Linked DNA regions of Homo sapiens: all the other regions are linked to region 1. The links come from fine-mapping of genetic effects on gene expression. A gene starts in region 1. Each other region holds a variant in brackets. All regions are shown on one strand. Distances are from middle to middle.

The links.
Region 2: its variant is fine-mapped to the expression of METTL22 in cerebral cortex (GTEx, PIP 0.96).
Region 3: its variant is fine-mapped to the expression of METTL22 in platelets (CEDAR, PIP 0.95).
Region 4: its variant is fine-mapped to the expression of METTL22 in thyroid (GTEx, PIP above 0.99). The same link has a PIP of 0.9 or more in esophagus muscle, gastroesophageal junction, tibial artery and visceral fat.

What each region holds. Positions count from the first base shown.
Region 1 is chr16:8,618,885-8,626,374 of GRCh38, forward strand. METTL22 (methyltransferase 22, Kin17 lysine) reads left to right here and starts at 2,814. Exons shown (of 11, transcript NM_024109.4): 1 at 2,814-2,891; 2 at 6,612-6,914. The coding sequence starts at 6,782.
Region 2 is chr16:8,661,273-8,668,762 of GRCh38, forward strand. It overlaps a transcript of METTL22 not described here. Among named protein-coding and RNA genes, the nearest start is that of ABAT, 9.6 kb to the right of the region's middle. The variant T/C (reference allele first, on the strand shown) is at 3,756.
Region 3 is chr16:8,651,752-8,659,241 of GRCh38, forward strand. It overlaps a transcript of METTL22 not described here. Among named protein-coding and RNA genes, the nearest start is that of ABAT, 19 kb to the right of the region's middle. The variant C/A (reference allele first, on the strand shown) is at 3,548.
Region 4 is chr16:8,640,223-8,647,712 of GRCh38, forward strand. METTL22 (methyltransferase 22, Kin17 lysine) reads left to right here. Exons shown (of 11, transcript NM_024109.4): 7 at 909-962; 8 at 1,905-1,985; 9 at 2,241-2,343; 10 at 4,335-4,503; 11 at 5,886-7,490. The coding sequence ends at 5,921. Among named protein-coding and RNA genes, the nearest start is that of METTL22, 22 kb to the left of the region's middle. The variant G/T (reference allele first, on the strand shown) is at 3,475.

The DNA of each region.
Region 1 (7,490 bases):
ACCTTTGGAGAAAGGGCTGTTCTGAATAACCCAGCTAATAATAATCACCCGACAGCAATTTCCTGCAAGCTGGTTTCTTAATACACATCTGGCAGTTCATCCGCCTTCCCTCTGCTGCAGACATGGTTTGTCATTAGTCCAGGTGGTGGGAGTGATGGACACTCCAGCGTGTGTGAGCATGCACCTTAACCCTTGCTTCGCCAAGTCTGGGGGAGACTCTCAAAGCAAAAGACCTGCCTGGGACACTAGGGAGGGCATTTAACCCTAAGGCTCCACCCAGCAGACTCACTGGGACATTTTGAAAATGTGAGTCTGAGGCCAAGTGTGGTGGCTCATGCCTGTAATCCCAGCACTTTGGGAGGCCAAGGCGGGCAGATCACGTGAGGTCAGGAGTTTGAGACCAGCCTGGCCAACATGGTGAAACCCCGTCTCTACTAAAAATACAAAAATTAGCTGGATGTGGTGGCACACGCCTGTAATCCCAGCTACTCAGGAGACTGAGGCAGGAGAATTGCTTGATCCAGGGAGGCAGAGGTTGCAGTGAGCTGAGATGGCGTCACTGCACTCCAGCCTGGTCGACAAATGGAGACTCTGTCAAAAAGAAAAAAGAAAAGAAAAGAAAACGTGAGTCTGCGTCTCACTGGCTAGGTAACACTGAGCAAGGCACTTCACCTCTCTGAGCTTCGGAATGGGTGTGAGAATGAAACAAAACCACAAGATGAAGGGGCCAGCAGTGTGCCTTGTTTATAACTGAGGCTCCGGAACTGAGGGCCCCCTCCCGCACTCCCCCAGCTACCATCTCTTTGCAGCCCTGCCAAGAAGGGCTGGCTTTCTTTCCCCTTACCTGGTGACCTATTACTGTGTTGCAAACCACCTCAAAATTTGTGGCAGAAATGATAACCCTTTTGGGGCCATCTGGGCTGCTATAACAGAATACCATACATGGGGTGGCTGATAAACACATTCATTTCTCATGGTTCTAGGGGCTGGAAAGTCCAAAATCAAGGCACTGGCAGATTCTGTGTCCAATTCTTGGTCATAGATGGCTGTCTTTTTGCCGTGTCCTCACATGACAGAAGAAGTGAGGCAGCTCTTTGGGGCCTCTTTTGTAGGGGCACTAATCCCCTATAAAAGATTATAGGTTTGACAAGAGGAGGAATGTGATCTTTTGATTTTTAAGGGTCATTCCCCCGGTTTAAATTTGAAGACAAAACTCCCAAGGGTGTGAACAATGCCTTCCTAGTGCCCTCCCCACCACTCAACATCCTCTGGGGATAACTAAGAGAACCCTCAGCGAACTAGAGAGAAAACTATGAATAGAATCTGGTCCCAAGACACCCAACTGGCTCTCTGTGTACTGTCCTGGGGGATTTCAGGAAACATAATCTGTTTCTTAAAAAAAAAAAAAAAAAAAATTCTTATTTGTGTCGCTTAGTCACCCTATCAACTCTCCACGTTTTATCATCAGTAACCATGAAATTGATGTTGATTTAATTCTATTTTGAAAAGAGAAAAAAAAGTAATTTAGACAAAGGTTGCCAGCTGAGGCCATGTGTGTGCGTGTGTGTATATGTGAACACACAGGGATATAGATTTTACATATGTGGACTTTACATATGTTCCTGTGTGTATATTTGTATGTTCACTGACATGTCTGAGAGTGAGCACCACTGTGTGTGTCTGGGCATGTCTGTGAACACGTCAGTGTGGTGTATATCCCTGGCAGCTCCCCATCTCACGCACAGTAAAATCCAAAGTTCTTAGAATGTCACAAAAGTTCTAACCCTGGCTACCTATGTATCCTCGTTTCCTGCGGCCCATCCCCTGGCTTACTCCATTGTGGCCAGGCTGACTTCCATGATGTCACTGAATATATAGATTGAGAAAAGGGCCAATATTATTGACTGTACTTTTTCTAAAAATGCAGTGACTCAGGCAAGAGACGTGAGAATCTGTGGTCTATCCTGCTCATCCTCTTCAGGGGATTCTTCTGAGGGCTGTGCTCAGTCACGGACTCAGAGGCTTTCTGAAATTCTGCAGGCAAGAAAAAACGAGCAAACATGGAGTCTTATGTTTGCCACTCTGTCTCACCCCCTTGGTGTTGGAAACTTGATGAGCATACGAATTAACGAAATCACTACCACCTAATGAAATCACTACCACCTATTAATAATAACAAGTACTGGCTGGGCGTGGTGGCTCATGCCTGTAATTTATGAGCTTTAGGAGGCCGAAGCAGGAGGACTGCTTGAAGCCAGGAGTTTGAGACCAGCCTGGGCAACACAACAAGATACAGTCTGTACAAAAAAAAAAAAAAATGGTGCCACGCAACTGTAGTCCCAGCTACTAGAGAGGCTGAAACAGGATTCCTTAAGCCCAGGAGTTCAAGGCTGCAGTGAGCTAAAATTGCGCCGCTGCACTCCAGCCTGGGTGACAGAGCAAGACCATCTCAAATAAACAAACAAACAAACAAACGAGTACTAAGAGCATGGATGACGGTAACACCCGTGATAATAAATACAGTAGCATGCTGGTTAAATAGCACCGGCTCTGATCCCACACCCCGGGTTCGAATCCAGGCTTTACCACTTAGTAGCTGGGAGAGTTATTTAACTCCTATTTAAGTCTTTTAGAGGAATGAGTTTAGCCACCTAGGCGGGTCCCCCCAGCAAACACGCCTCGCCCGCGACCAGAGCGAAGGCTACAGGTGCCCGCCGGCAACCCTCGGACGCATGCGCGGCCCGGGCAGGTAGGTGGAGCCACGGTGCGGGGCAGTCGGATGGTCGCACGCGGGGGCGGGGCCGCGCCTGCGCAGACCGCCTGTTATGGCGGCCGCCTAAGTCCCACAGAGACGGGAGTCGGGTGGGATCCCAGGCTGGGCCCCGCGGCGGGTAAGTGCCTGGGAGAGGCGGCGGGATAGGGTAGGGTGCAGGGAACCTCCTGGCGCCGAGCCTGACTTTGAAATCCGAGCTCCCACAGATCGGAGGCCCAGATCCCTAAGGCCCGACCCCACTCTTAGCGTCAGTTTCCCCTTCTCAACACGGGTGTTGGGGAAAGAAGTCCACGTCCTCACCTGGGTTTCCATCCTGGGTCCAGGCACCTCTCCTTCGGTTCTAGATTAGGAAGGGAGGGCAGTGCCCGACCTGTGACTGTTTTTTGAGAGGGCAATAGTTAACCCACAAGGGTGGCGTCAGGAAGGCGACAAGACAAAGAGAACGAGTAGCCCCACGGGGGACGTCCCCGGAGCCCCTCACTACCACTCTACGCACCGTGGCCAGGCCACGTCTTTCCTGCCCCCAGCCTGGGCCTTCACACCCTGCCCTCCCCAGCTCCTGGCCTAAATCGTCATGGGATCGCGCCAAATTATTGATTGTTGAGTGAGTTGCAGTTATCAGAAAGAAAGATGAGGAGGGAAGTTATTTCAACACCGTGATCCCAGCACACTGCTTATTTGGGACAACTGACTGGGGACCTATAGGAGAAGAAAGCTGGTAGCGTCTCAGTCTAGCCCCCACAGCCTTAGAAGAGCCAAGAACACGTTAGCTCCTGCTGCAGGGATGAGCCTGCAGCCCTATGGAGAGGTGGTGGGGCAGGTCCCCATCTGCAACCTGGGTCTCCTTTCTCAGCTCTGCCCAGTAAAGAGAGGAGCCCGAAGCCCATACAGACCCTGCATTTCCGGAAAGAGACTTTTCCTGACTAGAGAAACTGTTACCTTTTTTCTTTCTTCCCAGCATTCACTTTAATCATTATTATATTACTATAATGATAGTATTTACTATTGTTGCTTATTGAACGTTTACTATATGTCGTAAGCCCGAAAAGTGGTAATTGTCTCATATACTCCTCTGAGTATATGAGGGCCTGAGATAGGTTCAAGAGGGCCTCCTTATTCCCAGATAGCTGATTCTAGGGAAAGCCACTTAAAGGGAATCTCCTTCATCTGGAACTTACATTGCAGCGTACATTTCTTGGGAAGCCTGGTTGGGTTGAATTTAAAAATGGAAAATTCAACTAGAGATTAAGAATTTGAGTTTTTTTGTGTGTGTCTATACTTAAAATTTGGTGTGTAATATTATGCTCACTTTTGGAAAAAGCAAAGAACATTGATTTTTCTGGGATGTAAGTTTTCCAACAAAATTGCGCTATAGGCCATGCCTGGTGGCTCACACCTATAATCCCAGCACTTTGGGAGGCCAAGGTAGATGGATCTACCTTGGTCAGGAGTTCAAGACTAGCCTGGCCAACATGGCAAAACCCCATCTTTACTAAAAATACAAAAATTAGGTGGACATTGTGGTGCATGCCTGTAGTCCCAGTTACTCGGGACTCTGAGGTAGGATCACTTGAGCCCAGGAGGCGGAGGTTGTAGTGAGCCGAGATGGCACCACTGCACTCTAGCCTGGGCAACAGAGTGAGACTCTGTCTCAGAAAAAAAAAAAAAAATGCGCTATGGCAAAAAAAGAAATGGCATCCTTTGGTTCACTTTTGATTTTTACAGCAATATTAGAGAGGATCTTCCCCACCCCCTTCAAAAAAAACTGTATGTGAAAGTCCTCAGTTTTCCCCCAGGACATCTCTAAGTCCTGAGAGAGCTTGATCTGCCTTTGAAATGAGTGGTAGGTATAAGCTGTATTTTCTCTTCTGGAATCTGGTGTGGTTTTGCCAGTCCGATTGATTGAGTGTTGGCCTTCAGGTCCAGCATTTCTCCATCACTTTCAATGACACCATGAAATTCTGCATTGATTTGCCAGATTCACAGACTTTCTTTACAACCCACTTGCATTTTGATGGCTTTATGGTGTTGAGTAGGAAAGCTAGCATGGAGATGAATAAGGAATCATCTTTTTCTTAAAAATTTTTTTGTTGGGACAGCTTTTGCTGCCCCACAGCAACCACTTAAATGTAGGAACTCCAGCAGTGTACTGGGATCATTAGGACAGCCTGAGTCATGATGACCTCATTTTGCAGTTGAAGAAGTGGGGGCCCTGAAGATTTCATGACATCTACCCAGGTAGGAACAGCTCCTATAGGCAGTCAGGGGTTACAGGCAGGTTTGGGTCAAATACCTGAAACCAACCCCAGGACAAGGAGGTTGCTGGTGTTTTATTAACACCTACTGTGAGCCAAGGACTCTGCTCAGCAGTTTACCCACCCAGTAACACTGCGTGAGATTGTGGCTGAAGAAACAGATGCAGAGAGGCGAAGTGATTTTCCTGAAATCACATGGCTAGAAGGTGAGAAACCAGGGATCCCCACCTGGTCTGTCCAGCTTCAAAGCCCATCAGACTACTGCTGTTTGATGATGCTTTTTGATTAGGTGAAACGGTTGGAGGGAGGTCCCACCTGTTCTTGACCACTTTGCCTCAGCCATGGTTTTCCAAGTTTTAGTTATTAATGTGTCACCTGCATAATTTTGCCATATCTGTGTATCACCAGTGTAGTGACTCCCTTACTACTTTTCCTTTAAATCCACTCACTCTTTTTTTTTTTTTTTTAATTTCTTTTTGAGACAGGGTCTTGCTCTGCCACCCAGCCTGGAGTGCAGAGTGCAGTGACGCATTCTCAGCTCACTGCAACCCCTGCCTTTTGGTGTCAAGCGATCCTCCCACCTCAGCCTCCCAAGTAGCTGGGACTACCAGCGCGCGCCACGACACCCGCCTAATTCCACTCATCTTTTTAAATTCAGTAGCAGAGCTTTAAGCCAGGCATGATGGCTCACGCCTGTAATCCCAGCACTTTAGGAAGCTGATATGGGAGGATGGCTTGAGCCCAAGAATTTGAGACCAGCCTGGGAAACATAGTGAGACCCTTGTCTCTACAAAAAAAAAAAATTTAATGCCAAGTATGGTGGCATAGCTGTAGTCCTAACTATGAAGGAGGTTGAGGCAGGAGGATCGCGTGAAGTTTGAGGCTGCAGTGAGCCATGATTGTACCACTGCACTCCAGCCTGGGCAACAGAGCAAGCCCCTGTCTGTAAAAAGAAATGTTTAAAAATAAAACATTGTTTAAAATAGGAAAGCTTTATAACAACAAATGATGTGGGGACAGTTGATAACAGCTTCTAGAATAAAAAAGAAAGAGTAAAGGGCCATAACAACTAAATGCAAAGTGCAGATTGTGATTGGATACTGGTTTCTGGGGGAAAAAAAACCTCAAAGACCTTTGGGAGACAGATGGAGGAAATTGACTTTAATGCTATTAGGGAATTATTAATTAACTTAGATTTGCTAATGGTCTTATGATTATATAGGGAAATGCTCTTAGGGGACAGACATTAAATAATTTAGGGGCAAAATGTCATGATGTCTACAATGTACTCTCAGCTCAAGGAGAAGAAACCAGAGAGGGCAGGCACGTGTGGCAAAATGGTGAGGATCATTGAATCTAAGCAGTAGTTCTACGGTTATGATATTCCCCTGTATCCTTACTGTTTGAAATTTTTTTGTAATAAGTTGAAAAAAAAGGGAAAGGAAACTTTATAAATGGAAATTCATATCCCTTTCTATAAATAAAAGGTTACTATGAAAATGAATATAATGAATATATGAATGAATATAAAATGAATATAATGAGTGAAATGAATATAAACAAAATAACGCATTAATTTCCAGCTGGATTCTCTTCCCTGGCCAAGTCTCTGAGATCTTCTCCCAGGGCGATGCAAAGCTACTCGCTACCAGCTTGGACCTGTCTGCAGTATCTCCTCTGGGACCTGCCATGCTGAGGACCCATTCTCACCTCTGAGGGACTCCTGTCCTAGGACTAAGGTGGAGCCTGGGCCATGGTACAGCTGGCTCCTGCGGCAGCCATGGACGAGGTCACCTTTAGGAGCGACACTGTGCTGTCAGATGTCCACCTCTATACCCCGAACCATAGACATCTCATGGTACGGCTGAACAGCGTGGGGCAGCCAGGTAAGGTCCTGGGCCCAGGTGCCCTGCGGATCCTATTTTGTTTTCTGCTTTCTCATACTCATCTTTTTGGGGAAAATATTGGGAAGACTGGATTACGTAACTGTTATCCTCAGACCACTTTTTAAGTGCCCTTTTTTTCTTTATGATTTTTTAAAAACCTTGTACTCTGCAATTTTTGTATGTGGGGGTTTGTTTTGCTTTTGTTTTTGCTTTTCTTAAAGACAATCTCACTCTGTCACCCAGTCTGGAGTGCAGTGGCACAGTCATGGCTCACTGCAGCCTCAAACTCCTGGACTCAAGTGATCTTCCTTCCCCTGCCTCCAGAGTAGCTGAGACTACAGGCTCACATCACCACACCTGGCTGGTTTTTATTTTGTAGAGCTGGAGTCTTGCTAGCCCAGGCTGGTTTTGAACTCCAGGCCTGAAGCAACCCTCCCACCTTAGCCTCTTGAGTCCCTGGGATTACAGGCAAGCTGCTGTCCCCCCACTTTCATTAAGCAAACTCCTGTGGTTTCCTGAGCACCTATTGTGCGCCTGACCCAGGACTTGATGCTGGGAATGCAGATACGAATGAGC
Region 2 (7,490 bases), 42 kb after region 1:
ACAGCAGCACGTGAGTTCTGAGAGCCGCCAGTACCCAGCTAGCCCCAAACCCGAATTCAGATAAAACCCGCCTTTATTAAGAACTTACCGTTGGCCGGGCGCGGTGGCTCACACCTGTAATCCCAGCACTTTGGGAGGCCAAGGCGGGCAGATCACGAGGTCAGGAGATCGAGACCATCCTGGCTAAAATGGTGAAACCCCGTCTCTACTAAAAACACAAAATATTAGCCGGGCGTGGTGGCGGGCGCCTGTAGTCCCAGCTACTGCGGAGGCTGAGGAGGAGAATGGCGTGAACCCAGGAGGCTGAGCTTGCAGTGAGCCGAGATTGAGCCACTGCACTCCAGCCTGGGCGACACAGCGAGACTCCGTCTCAAAAAAAAAAAAAAAAGAACTTAAAATTGATCTCATTTATCTGCCCAACAACTTTGTACTCATATTATTTTATTCTATTTTATTTTATCACTATTATTATTATATTTTTGTAGAGACAGGGTCTCACTATATTGACCAGGATGATTTCGAACTCCCGGCCTCAAGCAATCCTCCCACTTTGGCCTCTCAAAATGCTGGAATTACAGGCATGAGCCACTGTGCCCAGCCTCCTGTACCCATTTTAGGGACACGTAAGCTAAGGCTCGAATCTTTACAGAGGCTGTCTGAGGTCACAGGACTCAGAAGTAGCAAGAATGGGCTTGGCATGGTGGCTCACGCCTATAATCCCAATACTTTGAGAGACAGAGGTGGGAAGATCACTTGAGTCCAGGAGTTCAAGACCAGCCTGGACAACATACCAAGACTGTCTCTACCAAAAGAAAAACAATCAGCTGGGTGCAGTGGCACGTGTCCGTAGTCCCAGCTACTCAGGAGGCCAAGGCAAGAGAATTGTTTGAGCCCAGGAGTTTGAGGTTACAGTGAACTGTGACTGCACCACTGCACTCCCGCCTGGGCAATAGAGCGAGACTCTGTCTCTAAAAATAAAAATAGCAAAGAAGTAACAAGAGGTGGGATCTAACACCGGTTCTGTCTTTCCATTGGAAACCCAGAGCTCTTTCCATGACCCCTGCCCAGGGTGAATATTGTTTGTCTGAAGGAATCCAGGAGCCTTGTGGATTGGAGCTTATGCTGTGCCATTGTCTTTGGATGGATTGAAGGGTTTGACATGCCAGGGCTGGGACATGATGACAGTCTTATTCTGCCTGCCTCAGGCTTCAGGAAACAACTGCTGTTAGAGCCATGTGGGAGCGTTTCTTGGGGGTGTTTCTTTGGAGCGTTTCTTCTAGACCAGGAAGGTGACAACCTTCACAGTGGGATGCATGGACTGGTGGTGGAGTTTCCAGCTTCAGAGCTCACCAAGAAAGAGCATGAAGCTGATGGTTTGGGTCCTGGAGACAGGGACAAAAGGAACAGAGCCTTCCCCCAGCACCCCTTTCCACTGGAGGTTCCTCAGAGGCAATAAAGCTTGATGGTTAGAACATGGCACCTGGCATCTGAACTCAAACCAGCCCGAACACTCACCTCTCTGAGCCTCAGAATCCTGGTCTGTAAAATGCGCACACTACTAGTACTTACTTCTCAAAGTTGGACTTGGTAATGTCTGTCAAGCACCTAACATATAACAGGGCAAGGAAGAAAAGCTCAAGCAATGGTAGCCATCACCAGGCGTGGTGGCTCACACCTGTAACCCCAGCACTTTGGGAGGCTGAAGCGGGTGGATCACCTGAGGTCAGGAGTTCGAGACCAGCCTGGCCAACATGGTGAAACCCCGTCTCTACTAAAAATACAAAAATTAGCCGGGCATGATGGCAGGCGCCTATAATCAGCTACTTGGGAGGCTGAGGTAGGAGAATCACTTGAACCCGGGAGGCAGAGGTTACAGTGAGCCAAGATTGCACCACTGCACTCCAGCCTGGGTGACAAGAGCAAAACTCCGTCTCAAAAAAAAAAAAAAAAAAAGGTAGCCAAGCCATCATCATCATCATCTCCCTATTATTATTAATCTCTGTTGCATTTCTATTAACTGTGTGTCTTGGGAGAATGGAAATTCCCCAAGTAGGCGTCCTGCTCAACAGTTAATGATGGTAAAACAGTCTCACTTGCCTAACCACTTCGCCTAAGTGTTACTTGACTGACAGGGTGGGTTATTTTGGGGAGAAAAAAAATCAGTCAAGCTCTCGAGTGCACCGTCCCTGAAAGGTTTCTATGACAACACATACCTGGATGTTCCAGTGGGAGGGTCACCTGGGGAAGAGTTCAGAGCTAAAATCAAGAGGGGGCCCCACCCAGGTGGGGGCCCCACCTGGAGGCTGGGGGAGGTCCTCCCACTCCTCCTATTTTTCTGCCTGTGTTTTCCCAGCCCTGACTCTGTATCCCTTTTAAACCTCTTCACAGCCCTGTGGGGTAAGTACTATTATTCTTACATCCATTTTACAGATGAAGCAACTGAGGCTTGGAGAAATTAAAGCTTGCCCAAGGTCAGTCTGCTGATCACATCTTGGATCATCTTAGACCTTTCTGGGTTTCATTTGTCAGACTAGAGGAGTTACACTAGAGTGAGGTTTCTCAGTCTCAGCACTGCCAACGTGTTGGGCTCAGTAATCCCATGTCATAGGAGACTGTCCTATGCATTGTAGAGCATTCAGCAGTCCCCTCGGCCTCTACCCACCGGATGCCAGGAGCACCTCCCTGTCTCCCACCCCCGACCACAGTCATGACAACCAAAACTGTCTCCAGCTGTGGCTAGATGGCCCCAGTTAATAACCACTGGGCTAGGCAATGATCTTTCCTCTTTCCTTACACTTGTGCATTCTAAGTTTTTTAATTTTTTTTTTTTTTTTAGATGGAGTCTCGCTCTGTTTCCCAGGCTGAAGTGCAATGGCGTGATGTCGGCTCACTGCATCCTCCGGCTCCTGGACTCAAGCGATTCTCCTGCCTCAGGCTCCCAAGTAAGTGGAACCACAGACATTTTCTATTTCTTTGCAAGCATTTTCTATTTCTTTGCAAGTTCACCTGTCTGTTCACCTGTGACACCATGCCCAGCTAATTTTTGTATTTTTAGTAGAGACAGGGTTTCACCATGTTGGCCAGGCTGGTCTCGAACTCCTGACCTCAGGTGATCCACCTGCCCCAGCCTCCCAAAGTGTTGGGATTACAGTGTGAGCCACCACGCCCAGCCTACATTTTATTTATGTATTTTTTTTTTGAGATGGGGTCTTGCTCTGCCACCCAGCCTGGAGTGCAGTGATGCTATCACGGCTCACTACAGCCTCAGCCTCTCAGGCTCAAGCAGTGCTCCCACCTTGGCCTCCTGAGTAGCTAGGACCTAGGCACATACCACCACACCAGGCTAATTTATTTATTTTTTGTATTTTTGTAAAGATGGGGTCTCCTTATGTTGCCTGGGCTGGTATCAAACTCCTGGGCTCAAGTGATCTTCCCACCTCAGCCTTCCAAAGTGCTGGGATGACAGGCATGAGCCACCACGTCTAGCCCACTCTAAAGCTCTTTCCCAGGACCCATCTCAAGTGATCCATGTGTGTTCATGTGACATTGAGGTCTTTCATGCAAAGATCCTTATCCAGGGCCCTAGAGCAGCCCGCACCTGAGCCAGGTGCTCAGGAAATCAGAATGAAAATCATCTCACCTGCTTGGTTGTCTGGCACGTCTCACTGTATCACCCTGCTTTAAAGGCACAGAAACTGAGGGTCCCTGGGGAGGAGGGACTCACTAGGGATCCCACAGTCTGTGAGCGAGAAAGC[T/C]GGGTGGGAGCCCTGATGGGCCTGACTCTAGGGCAGGAGTTTCCACGGTATCCTCTAAGGAGTTTGAGACCAGCCTGGGCAACATGGTGAAACCCCGTATCTACTAAAAATACAAAAAAAGTAATAATAATAAACAGGCATAGTGGTGCACATCTGTAGACCTAGCTGCTCAAGAGTCTGAAGTGGGAGAATCACTTGAGTTAAGGAGATCGAGGCTGCAGTGAGCCAAGACCGCACTGCAGCCTGGGTGATGAGAGTGAGACGCTCTCTCAAAACAAAATAAAACAAAAATAGCTGAGGCTGAGAGAGACAAATGCCTGAGAAGGAACGGTGGGTCTGACCTTGAACCCTGGTGACTCCAAGTCAGGAGCTGCCTCTGGGACCCAGCATACAGCCTGGCACCTTCCAGGCAAAGCCCCTCCCTCTGCTGCCTCTGAATTCAGCAGGAGACTGAGCGTTTGCATACACTTCGTGTCTGAAAACTTCCAGGATTCCCAAGATTCATTTCACAAAGACTTTTCTCGTAGGACAGGTATTTGAAACATCTGGTTAACAAGTACCCAGCTTGAAGAAAGCCTGGATCTTCACAGCACGCTCAGTTTGTAGAAGAGAAAAACCCTACTCTGGGCTCTAATTTGCTTCAGCTCCATTAAACACATCCTGAGCCCTGCTGTGTGCCAGACGCTGTGCTGAATACCTGGCACCAGAAGACCAATCGGGCCCAGGGCTTCTCCCCAAGGAGCTTCCTGGCCAGGCGGAGACACCCCTGGAATAGACCATTTAGGAGCCTGAGGCCTGCATGTAGCATTTAGTCAGCAGTTAAGTGTGGAAGTATAAGTGAGTAAATGGATGAATACCTGAGGGTGCGAATGAGCTACAGAATTAATGACTGAATGAATTAATGAAGTTGACAAATGCTATTACAGAAGTGAGCACAGACTATGATAGCCCAGCAGAGAGGCATTTAGAACCTTAGCTGTGGCCACAGGTGATGGTGCAGGAGGAAAAGCCAATATCTGTGCAGCATTTTCCATTTCTTTGCAAGTTCACCTGCCTCTATCATCTGAGACTCACCCTGAGGGTGTTCTTTGGTTGCCTGAGAGTCTGCTCAACCTGAAAGGGACAGGTGGCCAGAAGTGCTGGGGAGTTGACATCCTGAGCAAGCAGTTCTTGGCCAATGACGGGGAGTAGTTGGTGTATAAATACCCCAGCTTCCTTGCTCCACGGTGGGATAATCCTAAAGTGACTGTTCTGTGCCGGCTCCCAGTGTTCCCCAATGGAACGGAGCTGCAGTCACCCACAGTGATTATTTGCTAGATAACCCACACCTTATTATCGACCCACCAATATCTCCTGGAATCATCCTGAGATCACCTCCCAAATAAAGCACTCAAATCTTTGTCTCAGAATCTATTTCTAGGAGAACCCAAACTACAAGAGTGATGATTATGAAAACATTTATGGTCATAGCTAATATTTGCTGAGTGCTTACTACATGCCAGCCACTGCCTGCTACGTGCTCTAAGGCACTTCTCCCACTTAACACTCATGAAATCTCTGAGATGCAGACATTATGATCATCATCCCATTTTACAGATGGGACTGAGGCTCAGAAGTGAAGTCATCTATGTAAAGTCATGTAATTCTTTATCGTCACAGCCAGAATATGAGCCCAACTCTCTTTAACTCCAGAGTTTGAGGATATAACCATTCTGCCATGCTGTCTCCTGATTTTCTTTTCTTTCTTTCTTTCTTTCTTTTTTTTTTTTTTTCTTTGAGATGGAGTTTTGTTCTTGTTGCCCAGGCTGTAGTGCAATGGTACCATCTCGGCTCACTGCAACCTCCGCCTCTCGTATTCAAATGATTCTCCTGCCTCAGCCTCCCTAGTAGCTAGGATTACAGGCACCTGCCACCATGCCCAGCTAATTTTTTTGTTTTTTGTATTTTTAGTAGAGACAGGGTTTCACTATGTTAGCCAGGCTGGTCTCGAACTCCTGACCTCAGTTGATCTACCCACCTCAGCCCCCAAAAGTGCTGGGATTACAGGCCTGAGCCACCGCGCCCGGCTCTGTCTCCTGATTTTCATCTTCCATTGTCTGTAGGGAGGAGAGATGAGGACGAGAGGGAGAAAGGATGCCTGGGCTTGCTTTCTCAGTGGGGAAGAGTTCAATCTCAGTTCAGGTTTTCTTTTAACAAAATTTTTATGTTAATAAAATTAATAAAGTTGTTTTATTTATTTATTTTAAATTTTTATTTTCTTTATTATTTTGTTATTTTATTTTAAGTTCTGGGATACATGTGCAGAATGTGCAGGTTTGTTACATAGGTATACATGTGCCATAGTGGTTTGCTGCACCTATCAACTCGTCATCTAAGTCTTAAGCCCCGCGTGCATTAGGTATTTGTCCTAATGATCTCCCTCCCCTTGCCCCCCAATCCCCTGACAAGCCCCTGTGTGTGATGTTCCCCTCCCTGTGTCCATGTGTTCTCACAGCTCAACTCCCACTTATGAGTGAGAACACGTGGTGTTTGGCTTTGTGTTCCTGTGTTAGTTTGCTGGGAATGATGGCTTCTAGCTTCATCCATGTCCCTGAAAAGGACATGATCTCATTCTTTTTTATGGCTGCATAGTATTCCATGGTGTATATGTGCCACATTTTTGGGGTTTTCTCCTCCTCTGTAAAGTTTCAGCACAGAGTTCCTGGACAGCGCCTCAGGGCCAAGAGCTCCCCAAGAGCTCCCCAAGAGCTCTCCAAGATGTCCTTCCTCAGCATCCTGCTGTCCTTTTCATGCAGTGAAATTGATACGTATTCCTAGAACTCCTACTGCATGCCAAGCACTGTCAGAAGTCAAGTCATCAAAGAACTCAGAAAAGAAGTACATGTTTAGCTATTTTTTCCATCAGTCTCGATGAGGGAGCTACACTCCAACTGATCCCTGGAGATACCACAGCCATGTATTGTCAAGAAGAATTGGGGTAAATAGGCAGGGTATCTCTAGCCACAGGAGGAAGGGACCCAGGATGTACTAAGCTCCTTCTATATTCTTGGAACTACATACACATTAACTCAGGCAGGGTTTCTCAAGCTCGGCACCACTGACATGTTGAGCATGAGAATTGTCTGTTGTTCACTTTCTGCCTTTAGGAAGTCCTGCAGAGCATGGGGGTGGCAGTATGACCCAGCTCCCCTGTCATTTCACTACATCTTGAGCCAGAAGGGGGACTGCACTGCCGTGCATCCTTTGGGCTGGCAATGCTGGCGGTCCCAGTCATCACAATGGCAGCAGAACAAAGCCCTGACATGTGTGTGACGTGTCAGATGCAGCAGCTGCCTGTTGGGCCTGGCTCACTTTCTCATGCTTTCCCCATATTACCTGAGATGTTCAGAGGAGGAAAGCTGGAGGCAGCCCTTGGGTCTTCTAGGAGCCTAGCACGAGGGCCAAAATGCATGAGAACAAGCACAAGATAATCCCATAGAAGCCTTCCTCTTAGCATTCAGGCCTCAGATTAAATGTCACAGCCTTGTGGACAACTCCCTGAGCATCATGGCTGGTGTACCCACCCTGATCCCAGGAACATCATCTTATTTTGCATTTCCCTAAAGCACTTATTATCAGAAATTAGCTTCTTAGGCTGGGCACAGTAGATCATACCTGCATTCCCAGCACTTTGGGAGGCCAAGGTGGGAAGATCACTTGAGACCAGGATTTCGAGACCAGCCTGGCCAATATGGC
Region 3 (7,490 bases), 33 kb after region 1:
CAACCCTCAGAGAGAGAGAAAAGTCATGCTTTTGTTCTTACTCATAAGTGGGAGTTGAACAATGAGAACACAAGGACATAGGGAGGAGAACATCACACACCGGGGCCTTTTGGGGGATGGGGGACGAGGAGGGAGAGCGTTAGGACAAATACCTAATGCATGCAGGGCTTAAAACCTAGATGACGGGTTGATAGGTGCAGCAAACCACCATGGCACACATATACCTATGTAACAAACCTGCACATTCTGCACATGTATCCCAGAACTTAAAATAAAACAAGCAAAAAAGAAAAGTCATGCTTTATCCTGCTGATCCCAGCTCCACTCCACTTCCACGGGCTGCCAGTTGGGGGAGAAATGCTGCCAGGGACACAGCCTCAGAGTTCATGCTCTTCAGTATAGAGTCCAGATAAAAGTGAGATGTAGGCCGGGCGCGGTGGCTCAAGCCTGTTATCCCAGCACTTTGGGAGGCCAATGTGGGAGGATCATTTGCGGTCAGGAGTTCAAGACCAGCCTGGCCAACATGGTGAAACCCCATCTCTACCAAAAATACAAAAATTAGCCGGGCGTGGTGGTGCACAGCTGTAATCCCAGCTACTCAGGAGGCTGAGGCACAAGAATCGCTTAAACCGAGCAGGTCGAGGTTGCAATGAGCCGAGATCATGCCGCTGCACTCCAGCCTGGGCAACAGAGGGAGACTCCGTCTCAAAAAAAAAAAAAAAAAAAAAAAAAAGTGAGATGTAGTGTGTGCCCTTGCCCTTGCTTGCTGTGAAACCCTCATGTGTGGCCAGGTGCAGTGGCTCACACCTGTAATCCCAGCACTTTGGGAGGCCGAGGTAGGAGGATCACTTGAGCCAGGAGTTTGAGACCAGCCTGGGCAACATAGTGAGACCCATTCTCATGTTATTTAAAACAAATAATTATTTTAAAAAAAAAATTTTTTTAATTTTAGACTCATCTAAACTAAGGGAGCTGGGAGTAGGTGGCCATACCTTGGCCCTATGTGAGTGACTGTGATGGAAATATCAGTAGGTAACCAAGCTTATGGGTCTGTGCATCAGTGATCCACACACAACACACATCTTGGCTGTCGGCTGCAGCAGCCATGTGTCCCCTGAATGGGGAAGGGCAAAAGGAGCTATGGCTATGTGCCTGGGAGGTGGTCTTCCCAACGGGATGATGATGCTGTGTTTCCTGTCTGAGCCTTCTAGATGCTAAGTAAATGTGCTCTTAGATTAAAGCCTGTTGCATCTCAGGTGACTGCCAGTTCAAACCCACTTCTGCTGCTCAACCAATGCATGCGCCGGGCAAACGGTGGTGCTGCTGATATTGGAAGCAGGCAGTGGATCCCAGCTTCAACCAGGGAGGCCTTCCAGACTGTGCTGTTTCTTACATGGCAGTGTGGTACAGTGGCCCCAAGCAGGTGTCAGCAGGAATTTGCTTTTCTAACACTAGTTACTGATAAACAGACTGATGAATCACTCTGACAGTTTTGTGAATTTTAACCCTCTGTTAAAATCACAAGGGACAACGCTAAGTTTTAATATCTAAACTGGAATTTTAGGGGGCAAGATCAGCCCCTTAGATTGAAAGAGACCTATGGAGTTGGGTGATGTCAGGTGCCTCGGAGTCTTGGGGACAGCACCGATCTCTGTCCCCACATGGGCACACACTCTTGTCAGGCCTATCTGGCATTCAGTGATGACTTCTGTGTTGACAGGAAAATATTGATGGGATGAATGGAAAGGGTATAAAACATGGAAGAAGAAACTATTCTTTCATCAGTGATTAAAGGCAGCGGAAATAAAGCCAAGTAAAGTTCAGTGTACAAATTAATAAGGCAATCAGTCTCTATTGATTACTAGATGCCTGGTTGAAGTGGATCTTGAATTGGTTTCCCATGGGAAGGATTTGGAGATTTTAAGTGGCTGAGTGGTAATGATTAAAATCCAACTTTATTCTAAAGCTACCATACATAGTAAAGCCTTAATTAACTAAGACTCAGTTAGTTAAACCTGCTTCCCCATCATTTCCAAGGCTCAAGCTACTGAAACGTTTCAGTAGGACCAGGACTTAGAGACAGGAACACTGGGACCATCTCCTATATCTAAACACCTGGGTAGTGAGAACCCAGGAAGAAGGATGATATCAGGGAAGAATTTTGTGGAAAGCCTGACTTCAGAACCAAGCTCAATGTGGGAAGCTGAAATTGCAGTGACCCATGAGTACACCACTGCACTCCAGACTGGGTGTCAGAGCAAGACCCCATCTCAAAAAAAGAAAAAACAGGCTCAAGCAAAATGGGAGATCTCAGAGGATCGAGATGGTGATAGCCAACTGTCCTAAACATTTTAGATACATTAGCTCAGTAAATATCCCTCCACTCACGTGAGGCCCCACTTCATAGATGGGTAAACTAAGGAGGGAGTAGGCAAGGGGGCCAGGTAACTCTCCCAAGGTCACATAAGTTGTGAGGGATAGAGCCAGGCTTTGAACCTGAGAAGTTTGGCTTTATAGTCTAAGAATTTATCCCCCAGGCTCTTCACCACTCCTGGTAATTTGCTCATCATCACATAACTTATAAATGGCAGCTCTAAGGTATGTGTTTATAGGTGGAAAGTTACATACCACATGGTTAACCTTGATTAACCCCAGGGCATGGAATTGGGGGAATGGAATTGATGAGACTTTGCCCTTTATGTTATATACATGTATTTTGTTTTTACAAACATGGGTTATTTTTGTGTCTTTTTTACTAAAAATAAAGTTAAAAGAAATTAAGTACATGTGCACACATGCACGCATGCATACACACACAGCCAAAATGCTACTCTCTAACAAGAGCTGTATTTGAAAACAGATAGATCAAGCCAAGCTTTTGGGAAATAAAATTTATTTTAGCCCAAAGGTTCTAGAAAGACTCAGAGAAAAGTTCAGAGGGCAAATCATCCCTTGGGTGGGTCTGGGGCTACAAGACCCTGGGCTTGGTGCTCCTCCAACTGAGCCTCAGAATGCATAGAATGAGACTATGCCAGGCTCATCTGAACTCCATGTTGTCTGGTTCCCCAGTGGGAAATTTGTCATGTCCAGACCCAGGGGAGTGTGGCCGTGATCTGTACTAAAGGCTGAAGTTCCACCATAAGTTTTATCCATGTTTCTAGCCCATTACATTTTTACAGAGAACGCTAATGGACATAGCAGCAAACTGAAGGTGGACATAAATCCAGCCACCATGTGGGAAGGGAAAAAAGGGAGTAACTCAAACCTGCTGGGCCTCTTCCCAATAGTTAGAAGACTCTAAAATAAGCCAAGCCCTGTGTGGGGCATTGGGGAAAGGAACTGTATTATCTATTTGCTGCATGACAAAATACCCCAAAACTTAGAAGCTTAAGACAACAAACATTTATTATCTTACAGTACCTGTGGGTCATAAATCTGGGCTTAGTTTAACTGGGTGCCTCTGTCTTAAGACCTCTGCTAAGGCTACAAGGAGTTCAGCTGTGGTCTCATCTGAAGGTTCAACTAAGAGTGGATCCACATTGAGGCT[C/A]CCTCTTGTGGTTGGTGGCAGGATTCAGTTCCTCACCTGCTATGGGTCTAAGGGCCTCAGTTCCTCACTGGCTGCTGACCACAGACTTCTCTCATTTCTCTGCCATGTGGGCCTCTCTAGGGGGCCTCTGATAAAGCCAGGACATGACAGCAGCTTTCTCAGAGCAAGCATACAAGAATAGAGAGAGTTTACTGGGAGGTAACCTAATCTGAGAAGTGACACTCCGTCACTTTTGTCACATTCAGTTCTTCAGAAGTGAGTCACTAAGTCCAGCCCACACTCAAGGGGAGGGGATTACACAGAGTGGGAATACCCAAAGGTGGGATCACTGGGGACCATCTCAGAGGCTGCCCACAAGAGAGATGCAAAGGACACATCCTTGCCCTGAAGAGGCACTGAATCTGGAAGGAAGTGGGCAAGCCCGCCAGCATTGTGATGCAGAGATCGTGTTCTCATACCCACAGCTGATGTCCATTGAGCACCAACTTCCATCCAGGTGCTCTTCTAAACAAAGCCGTTCAATCTATTATCCACCTAAATGTGCAAACTAAGATTTATTTCTGAGGCATTTGGGGGATTCAGGAAGAGGAGAGGGCTGAGGGTGATGCCTAGCTTTCTGGCTTGGAGGACTGTGTCTTCTGACAAGACATAGTTCTTGAAGACTCACCACCATGCCCTCCACCAAGGTAAATTCTCCTGATGACCACATCTTTGCTCTAACACAGTGTTCTCCAAAGTATGGCGAGTTAGGATACCAGTGGTATGTGGCAGGTTTTTGTTGTTGTTGTTTTAGAGACAGGTCTCGCCATGTTGCCCACTGGAGTGCAGTGGCTATTCACAGGCATGAGCATAGTGCACCACGGCCTCGAACTGCTTGGGCTCAAACAGTCTTTCTACCTCAGCCTCCCAAGGAGCTAGGACTACAGGTGTGCACCACTGTTCCTGGCGCAGAGAGGTTTTAAGAGAAAAGCATTTTGAAGTTTATCCTATTGACATGTATGTAGCAGGATGCCACTTCCAGGGATTAGTCCTTTCCTCCACCCCCACTTCCTAAATGATTTTATTTGTACCCTGAGGGCCTTTTCCCCACTTCCCCCACAGACCTGCGTGAGTAGACCTCAGGCACCAACTGCACAACTAACTATTGGAGAAGCAAAGATTAAGCTCCAGCACAGCCACTAGGCAAAACCTGGGACACAGGGATTCTAATGTGAACTTGCAGAGTAAGATTCTCTGCTTCTGAGAAAACAGCTGTGTGGGCTGTGAAGATGGGAGAGGAGGTTTGAGACTCCAGTTACCTCAGCAGGAGAGCAGCCAGTCCCTGTCACTCCACCTTCATCTGCAGTGAGTGATGTTCCAGCAGTGCTGGCCTGGGCTGGGCTGTGCCCTGCGGCTCCAATGCCCTCCTGACAACCCAGGAAGCTGTCTTACTCCATTTTGTGCTGCTATAACAGAACACCACAGACTGGGTAACGTAATTAACAGAAATGTATTGGCTCACAGTTCTGAGGCTGGGAGGTCCAAGAGCTAAAGGCCAGCATCTGGCAAGGGCCTTCTTGCTGCATGATAGCACAGCAGAAGGCGCCACATGGTAGAACAGTAAAGAGAGGATGAGAACGAGAGAGAAGTAAACATGGGTCAAACTCGTCCTTTTATAAGGAACCCACTCCCGAGAAGACAAACCCACTCTGGTGATAACAGGATTAATCCACAGAGTCCTCTTGCCCTAATCACCTCTTAAAAGTCCCACCTCTTGATACTGTTACAATAGGAATACACTTCATCATGAGTTGTTTGGGAGGGAACAGACATCTAAACCACAGCTGAGCCCTTCTTACAGCAAGATAAGAGAGGAAGATGCCACTTCAGGGAGGATCGATGTCATTACAAGACCTCACAAAACCTGTTTGAAGTCACCCTCCAAGCTAGTCCAGTTGTTGAACCACACCATCATGCCCTGTTTTGTGTATTCTGGGAGAAAAATGTATCTTGCATTTGAAAACCAGGGACATGAAGGATATTATTCTCGGTTGAGGCTAAGTTAATAATTTGTGCGTAGTTAAATACAATATTAAGTAATAATGTAAGTGGGAAGCAGGAATAGCAAATGTCACAAAGATGGTGATCTTGGGGGCTGAAGTTTGCAAAACACCAACAATAGCTTTGCCTGTGGTTTCAGCCTTTGTCCTGTCCCTCTTTAACTAAAGGCAGGAAGACTTGTCCCCCATAAAACCAGGTTCCTTTTCGTCTACTATATGGAGTTCAAAACAATTTCAGTCAGTCCTGAGAAACTGAAGACAAAGGATGTTTTCCACCTTTTTGAAACTATAGTGGGTTGAATGGTGGCCCTAAACAAGCTATGTCCACGTTCTAAACCCCAGAACCTATGAATGGGAAACTTGGAAACATTTGAGAAAGGGGTCTTTGCAGATCTAATTAAGTTAAGGGTCTTGACAGTCGTCCTGGATTTAGGGCGGGTCCTAAATCTAATGACTGGTGTCCTTCTTTTTTCTTTTCTTTTCTTTCTTTTTTTTTTGAGACAAGGTTTCTCTCTGTCACCCAGGCTGGAGTTCAGTGGTGTGATCATAGCTCAGTGCAGCCTCAACCTCCTGGACTCAAGCTATCCTCCCATCTCAGTCTCCTGAGTAGCTGGGATACAGGCGTGTGACGCCATGCCTGGCTAATTTTGTCTGTTTTTAGCAGAGACGGGGTTTCACCATGTTGCCCAGGCTGGTCTCAAACTCCCGAGTTCAAGCAATCCTCCCACCTTGGCCTCCCAAAGTGCTGGGATTATAGGCATGAGCCACCGTGCTCTGCCCCTGATGTCTTTATAAGAGAAAGGAGAGGGAGATTTGAGAACCACAGTGAAGATGGCCTATGAAGGCAGAGATCAGAGTGATGCTGCCACATGAAGGAGCACCCGGGATCACCAGAAACTGGAAGAGGCAAGGAAGAACCCTCCCCTTGAGCCTTTGGAGGCGTGAGTCCCTGCTGACACCTTGATTGCGGACTTCTGGTTTACAGAACTGAAATAATCCATTTCCACTGTTTTAATCCCCCAGTTTGTGGTCATTTGTTACCAAAGCAAACTCATCCAGAACCCAAGGGATATAGGCTCAGAAATGTGCACCTCATGGTAAAGAAACACTACAAGCCACTGCAAAGCTGAAGGAGACAGGGAATGGGGAGGAAGTCCCCAGGCTCAATCTCAAAGATCTTGGCTGAAGCCCGGTTGCTCCTCGGCTCCAGAAGAGCTAGGTGGACATGGTATGCCTCATATCCTCAGGTGAATACTTGGCATCGGTCAGAAGGATATCCTGAGATGCTGTGAGGGATCTTTGAAAATATTTACTCTCCAGCATGTAAATATACCGAAAGATCTTCCTGCTATTAACATATCTCCGTCTTTGGGAGGGCGGGGACTTGGCTTTTCAGTCCAGATTTGACCAGAGTGCACGTCAAGGCTCTACTGTAGACACCCACTCTGGGAGGTCATTGCACAAAGCCCAAATCCCTTTGCAGGGCCCACAAGGCCCTCCAAGGCCTGGCCCCTGCCTCCCTTCCCAGCCCCATCTCATCCACCATATTGAATCCTCCCCACTCCGAGAATGCACCACTCTCTTGGCCATGTGCCTTAATGCAACCCCTCCTCACCCTCTCAAACCACCCACCCAGCCCCTCTCCCCTGCCCCTTCTTCCACAAAGCCTTCCCCAGTGTCCACAGCCCATTTAAAACTTGGTGTGATAATCAGCCAGGCACGCTGGCTCACACCTGTAATCCCAGCACTTTGGGAGGCCAAGGTGGGCAGATAACTTGAGGTCAGGAGTTCGAGACCAGCCTGGCCAACATGGTGAAACCCCATCTGTACTAAAAATACAAAAATTAGTTGGGCACAGTGGTGTGCCCCTGTAGTCCCAGCTACTTGTGAGGCTAAGAAGGGAG
Region 4 (7,490 bases), 21 kb after region 1:
AGAGCTGGGAGGATGGAGGGAGCATGCTGGTGGAAGCCTTCCCTGACATCCGCTGTCTGACATGAGTTCCTCTCTCTCCTCCTGTGCGTTTGCCTCATCCTTCTGGCATCACCCAGCCACACAGTCTTGCCGTTGTTGGTTAACCTGCCAGTCTCTCCTAGGGGAGCTGGTCTGCAAGGATGGGGAGCATGACTCTTAAATCTTTATTTTCCCTATGTCTGGCACCGTCCCTGACACGTAGCACTCAAAAAATGCTGGAAGAATGGACGGATGGATGGAGGGAAGGGACAGAAAATGGATGATGGATGAGGAGGGAAGGAGGATAATAAGGATGGGTGGGTGGATGGGTGGGAGGGCAGAAGGATGGATAGATGGGTAGATGAGAGGATGGATGGATGGATGGATGGAAAGATGGGTGGATGGGAGGGAGGGAGGGAAGGAAGATGGGTGGGTGGATGGATGGATGGATAGATGGAAGGGCAGGAAGATGGGTGGGGGGGTGGGTGGATGGATGGATGGATCGATGGATGGCTAGAAGGAAGGATGAGAAGATGGATGGGAGGGAGGCAGGGAGGGAAGGAAGATAGGTGGGTGGGTGGGTGGGTAGATGGATGGATGGATGGATGGATAGAAGGAAGGGCCGGAAGATGGGCAGGTGGGTGGGTGGGTGAATGGATGGATGGATGGATGGATGGATGGATGGATGGATGGATGGATGGATGGGTGGGTGGATGGCTGGCTGGCTGGCTGGCTGGCTGGCTGTAAAGATGGAAGGGCAGGAAGGTGGATGGGTGAGAGCAAGGGTGGGTGGGTGGATAGATGGATCTTCATATATAGTGTAAAAGTTTATCTTTTTTTCCTGATGATGTTTAGAGTTTGGAAAGTTCTCTTTTTGTTTGTTTTTACAGGTGGTATAGTTAGGGTCAAAGAACTGGACTGGCTGAAGGACGACCTCTGCACAGGTGTGTGTTTCTCTCGGACGTCCCCCAGTATGATTCAGTGATTCCTTTGTAATACCTCAGTGCCCCTGGCTCTGTGGTTTTGACAGAGCTGTAGTCCCAGCTGCTGCCACAGTCCCATCGGCGCATGGCAGCTTCTCTCCATTGGCCGATGAGCACCAGCTGTCATTCTCTGAGCGCCTGCTGCATGCTGGGCACCTCACGTTCATTTTCTTCTCCAGGTGTTGTGGTTTCCCTGTGTGGTAGCATGATAATCCCTGAATTGTGAGTGCAGACTGCCCATGGGCACAGCTGGTACACAGCAGGGTAGGGGCATAGACCCGAGTTTGTCAGACTCTGGGGCACAGACCATTTCCCAACAAACAGTGGTGCCAGGAAACCCCCCGGGTAGGACAGTTTCCATATTTCTTACACAGACTACTTCAGACCTGGGTGCTTGCTCTTTCTTTGTATAAAGATGTCTTTTTTTTTTTCCCTGTCAGATGGCAGATGGGAAAAGTCGTTCCTTGAGTACTGGTCACCTGCCTAGCACTTTGCGCACCGTAGGCCCTTCGGCCCTCCCAATAGTCCTGTGAGGAAGTAGTACTGTGCCCTTTCTGTGAGTGCAAAACTGAGGCTGTTTTCCTGGGCCACCCAGCAGGCAGAAGGGGGAGATCATGTCCTGCACTGGGCCACAGGCCAAGGCAGCGGGTGAGGCTGAAATCCGCCCGCTGCTCACTGGCTAGAGCAGACACTCAGCAGAAAAGGCACCTCTTCCACCATGACTCTGCACCCGGGCAGCAGTGGGCCTGAAGCAGGGAGTCTGGTCTGCCTGGTGGTGCCCACTGCACCGAGCTACCCCCAGCCCTGTTTCTTCTCTTGAAGTGCCTTTTGGTCAGTCCCAGTGAGAGTTGGTGGCCAGGAGAGAAGGCAATGGGCACAAAGTGTGCTTTTGTTCTTTCTTAGATCCCAAGGTCCCCTTCAGTTGGTCACAAGAGGAAATTTCTGACTTGTACGATCACACCACCATCCTGTTTGCAGCCGAAGGTAAGAAAATTTCTCCTTCGCCGTACACGTCCTTTGTTGTAGCATGAAGTCAAGTGCAGTCTCTCCTCACTTCCCCCGGGAGTTCAGTTTTAGAAGTGACTTTCTGGTACATGCCACCACATCTGCAGTTTTAATTCTGGAAGCTGCTGCTGTTCCGTGGTGATAAGCATTCTCTCTGTGCGGATTGCTCTGAAAAGTCGATTTCTGTAATATTTGCGTGTTTTCCTCTAATGCTGGCCTTTTTGCTTCCCACAGTGTTTTACGACGACGACTTGACTGATGCTGTGTTTAAAACGCTCTCCCGACTCGCCCACAGATTGAAAAATGCCTGCACAGCCATACTGTCGGTGGAGAAGAGGTGAGCTTTGCGCCACGGGAACCGTGCTGACGTCCCGAGTGTCAGCGGAACTCTCACCTCCTAATTGTGTCCTTGTCAGTGTCATTATGATTGTTACTCAGTGCCACTTATTGAGCACCTACTATGTGCCAGGTCTGTGCTCATCCTTTGTGTACGTTACTGCACTGAATCTGCATCCTAGCCCTGTGTGCAGGCGCTGCTGTCCCACTTGACTGATGAAGAGAGGAAGGCTGGGAAGCATCAGGGGCCTTGGCCAGGGCACGGCTAGTTAGTGATAGACAAGGACTTGAATGCAGACTGTACTGGAACCTCAACGCTTGGCCAGCACACACTGTTGAGAGCTTCTCTTCCTGAATGTTCTCTCTGTGGTGCCGTCTGTCTCTTCAGCTCCCCCAGGTCTCTTTCTCTTGCTGAATCGGACAGCTCCTCACCCAACAGCCTCACCCAGACATTTCCACTAGAATATCCTGAAATGTTAGGTTCCATTTATTGAGTGCCCACCTTGTGATAGCTACACACATTCTCCTGTAATACTTAACAGTAGTCCACAGCTTTTCTGAAGATCGTTCGGAATCCACAGCAAAAGCTGTAAAACGAAACAGACTTCTTCACCCAGCAATTCAGCATCTGGAAATTCACACTCAGGGTTGTGTACAAAGCTGTATGTACTTGCATATTTATTGCAGTGTTACTTATACCAATAATACCGAGGGCTTGCTTTGAGGCACACACTGAGCAATAGCAATGTACAGACCTCATTTGGATCCTGATTTCATAAACTGTAAAGGAAAAACATCAGGACAGTTGGGAAAAGTTGAATACTGAATATTTGATGTTAAAGGGTGATTGTTAAACTTTAGTTGAAGAGGTCTTCATCTTCTTGAGACACACACTGACATTTCCAGCTTCACAGAGGAAATGGGTTGGTGTCTGGCATTTGCTTTTTAATAACTCAGTGAGGGCAGGGGGCCCCGGGAAGAGCCAAGGTGGCAGAGTGGCTGGAAGTGGACAGTGGCTGAAGCTGGTAATGGGTTCATTAGACAGTTTTGTTTTTTTTGTTTTTTTGAGGCAGAGTCTTGCCCTGTCAGCCCAGGCTGGAGTGTGATGGTGCGATCTCGGCTCAGCACAAGC[G/T]CCACCTCCCGGGTTCACACCATTCTCCTGTCTCAGCCTCCCAAGTAGCTGGGATTACAGGCATGCGTCACCACACCTGGCTAATTTTTGTATTTTTAGTAGAAACGGGGTTTCACCATGTCGTCCAGGCTGGTCTCAAACTCCTGACCTCAGGTGATCTGCCCTCCTCGGCCTCCCACAGTACTGAGATTACAGGTGGGAGCCACCACGCCCAGCATAGACTGTTCTTACTCCTGTTGCATGTCTGGAATTTTTCTTGATAAAAAAATTTGGAAAGAAAAGGGAAAAAGGCAAAGAGCTTTAATTTCAAGTGAAACCATCTTGTAGACTAAGGTTTTGAAAGGCAAGTGGCAGGGTTGGGAGACCTGTTTCTGAAGGTGCTCACTCTCTGAAATCTCTCAGACCCCAGCTTCCCAGCAGTTTTCTCTCTGTTCTCTGTGCTCCCGGAGTCCTCTGCACCGCCCCCTGCCACTGCCTCTCATTCATTCATTTCTCAGATAGTTATGCGCAGCTCCAGGCACCAGATTCTGTGCTGGGTGCAGGCAGGACCTGGAGGGCGTCCTCAAGTGTTGATCTGCAGGACTGTCTTGATCTTTCCAGCAGTGTCATTGTGGGCACGTGACCTGAGCTTTCTGAGCCTGTTTCCACATCTGTAAAGTGCTATCCACTTCCACCTCCTGGGCTGTCGTGCAGATGTAGGAAGGAATTGCACTCACACACTCAGCATGAGACAGGCGCTCAGTAAAAGCCCGTCCAGGGGATATGAGATCAGTGAGGGATAGGAAAGCAAGGTGGGCAGAAACAGCAAAACCCTTCCCATTGATGATGGCAGTTTGTGCGTCCGACTGGCTGGTTTGCAGGCTCAACTTCACATTGAGACACTTGGACGTCACATGTGAAGCCTACGATCACTTCCGCTCCTGCCTGCACGCGCTGGAGCAGCTCGCAGATGGCAAGCTGCGCTTCGTGGTGGAGCCCGTGGAGGCCTCCTTCCCACAGCTCCTGGTTTACGAGCGCCTCCAGCAACTGGTAGGTCCAGGCCCCGAAGCAGGGCCGTTGGTTGCTTTACTGTGAAGCGGGTGACTCCAGGGCAAAGAGGTGATGAAGCAAGCCCTCCAAGCACAGGCTCCACCCTAGTCCTGCAGGGGGTGAAGCCTGCGTGCCTGGCACCATCTGTAGTGGAACCTGTTGGGGGAGCTACATCCTGTTCTTAGCAGCCACCATGTCTGGAGACGGGCCTACAGGCGAACCTTGTCTTTTACTTTATAGCACATATTCCCCCCGTTGGACAGTTCAGACTCCAGAGGAGGCAAGACCGAGGCAGAGGTTGTTTGGGGAACAGGAAGTCAGTGGAGGGAAGTTTGTGGGTTGCAGATCTTGGTGCAGGCGCCCCGCTGTGGTGGCCGCTGCTCACATCTTCACTGTGGAAGGATACCAGCCCCTCTCGGACTGAACTGGCTTTTCTATTAACTGGAGTCCAAAGATTGAGAATTAACTTCTTTTGTTCTGTTTGCCTTTTGGCTGTGGCCTCCCTTTCTCTATGTCTGTGGAGACCCGGGCCTAGTTCTAAGGAAAAAGGGAGGAAGAGGGAGTCACGAGGAGCTGCCGCCCTTGCACTCTGTCTCGCGTCCTGAGGGAGGGCAGCATGGAATTCGTGTGGTTTTGTGTGCGAGGAGGATCTTGTATTTATTGCTCTGCCACTTCTGGGCAGCATTAAGAGTAGCGTCACATGACCAAGAACACACATTTCTTACAAGTCAGCAGCCCCAATACATGATGCCTAAGACGTCCCAAAAAGGCCAGGTACGGTGGCTCCCACCTGTAATCCCAGCACTCTGGGAGGCCATGGTCGGAGGGTTGCTTGAAGCTAGGAGTTCGAGACCAGCCTGGGCATCACAGACCCTATCTCGACAAAAATCAAGAAAAAAAATTAGCCATGCATGGTGGTGCACACCTGTGGTCCCAGCTACTCTGGAAGCTGAGGTGGGAGGATTGCTTGAGCCCAGAAGTTCAAGGCTGCAGCAAGCTGTGATGGTGCCACTGCACTCCAGACTGGGCAACAGAATGAGATCCTGTCTCTAAAATAAAATTGTTTATAAAGATCTCCCCCAAAATGGAGAGATACGGCAACTCACTGCTATTCTGGTCTCTTCTGATTGTTTGACATCCTCTGATGCACCTTCCGTTAATGCTGGGACTTCATCCATCCAGCCTCTCTGCCACAGTAAAATAGAACAGCCCAGAGCAACAAAGAAAGGAGGAAGCCGCCCGTCCGCTCCTGCCCCAGCTCGCCTGCTCCGTGGCTGACGTGTTGTCTAACTACTCTCCTTGGTGAATCACTTTCCTTAATGAAATTGTGATGCTCTTGTATGTGCACTTCAGAAACCTGTTCTTTTCTCTGTTTGCTGCAGGAGCTCTGGAAGATCATCGCAGAACCAGTAACATGACCCATCGCCTCCACAAGGCGCGGCGTCTCGACTGTTCTTAGAGTGTATTTCTAGTAAAATCAGAAGCTCACCAAAGCAACATGCTTGAGATTTTGTCATTTTAAAAATATGGTTACACGTACCTTAGATGACCCAAGATGGTTTTCTGGGGTCTGTCCCTGCCTCCCAGTTGTAGCCAGAGAAGGTTGTTGCTGTGGGCTGGAGGTCACTTTAGTTGCCTGTTTCTCATGGTTGTGATGTGTGCTCCAGGGTCAAGCCGAGCCACGTTCCTTCTCAGCTCAGTTCCACCCACGTCAGTCATTTCAGCTGTGTGCTTTACTTGCGGTTGCGGCCCTGGCTGTGAGGTGGATTCTTGTACTGCCCTCTGTCAGCTGTTTACAGATGGGTTGACTACCACTGCCAGTATTGCCATCATATTGCCGCTCGGCACAAAAGCCTCATTTCCTCCCAGGGTTGGGTATGCTCCACCCCATCACTCTGGTGAGGGCCCCATGAGAAGGAAGAGGCAGGAGCTGGCGCCAGGAATGGACTGGCATTGGCCTTTGTATTTAATTTTAACTCTTTATCACCCAAATCAGGTACGTTTGGAATAAACCTAAGAGCCACTCTTTGGGGTCATGTGCAGCTGACCAGGGTTTGTGCAGTGATCTTCCTCAGAGGTGTTCCCTTCCGCCTGGACTCATTTTCCCTCCGCCCCTTGGTCTCTCTGTCTTATCACGTGTGTACATGTCTGTCTGTCTGGTTTTTTATCTTCTCCATCTGTGCCTCTCTCCTCCCATCTCCACCCCTTCCTGTCATCCTCTATGTCCCACTGTCTCTCTCCTTCTCTCCAGTTTTGGTCCCATCTTCCTGCTACCCTTGGCCCTCCCTGCAGCCCCTTTCCCCTGCCTTGCTGCTGCCGCACACTTTGCACCAGGGCCTTTCATGGCCCCTTTCCGCCTCCCTTGCAGCTCAGGTTTCCTGGCTTCTCCATGCACTGTCCCTGCCCACACTCGCTTCTCCCCAAGCTCCCAGGTTCCATCCCTAGGCCCATCATACCCCTGGCATTGGCTAATCCCTCATGCCAGGGGCCAGGCACTTGCAAGTCTAACTTCATCTTCCCAACAAATTTAGGAGGTCCGCAGCCTTGTGATACCCACATTACAGCGGAGAAGACTGAGGTCCAAAAAGGAAAAAGTCTCCATGAGGTCAGGGACCTTGTTTGTCTTAAATATCACTACATCCCTGCTGTATGGTCTGGCAAACAGTAGATGCTCAACACATATTGTTGAATGAATTGCTAATGTAAGTTACTAATTAGGTCATTATTTCCTATTTGTGAGTGATTTTGCCTCCAGGAACATTTGGCAGTGCCTGGAGACATTTTCGGTGGTCACAAGTAGGGGAGACGGGTGCCACCAGTATCCAGTGGGTGAGGCCAGAGATGCTGCTGAACGTTCTATAATGCGGTAATCACGGAGCATCCCCCACAACACAAAATGATCCAGCCCAAAATGTGAGTAGCGCCGAGGCGGAGAAATCCTGACTTGGAAGAAGAAAGCCAAGTACTTTAGAGAAGAAAAACGGTCT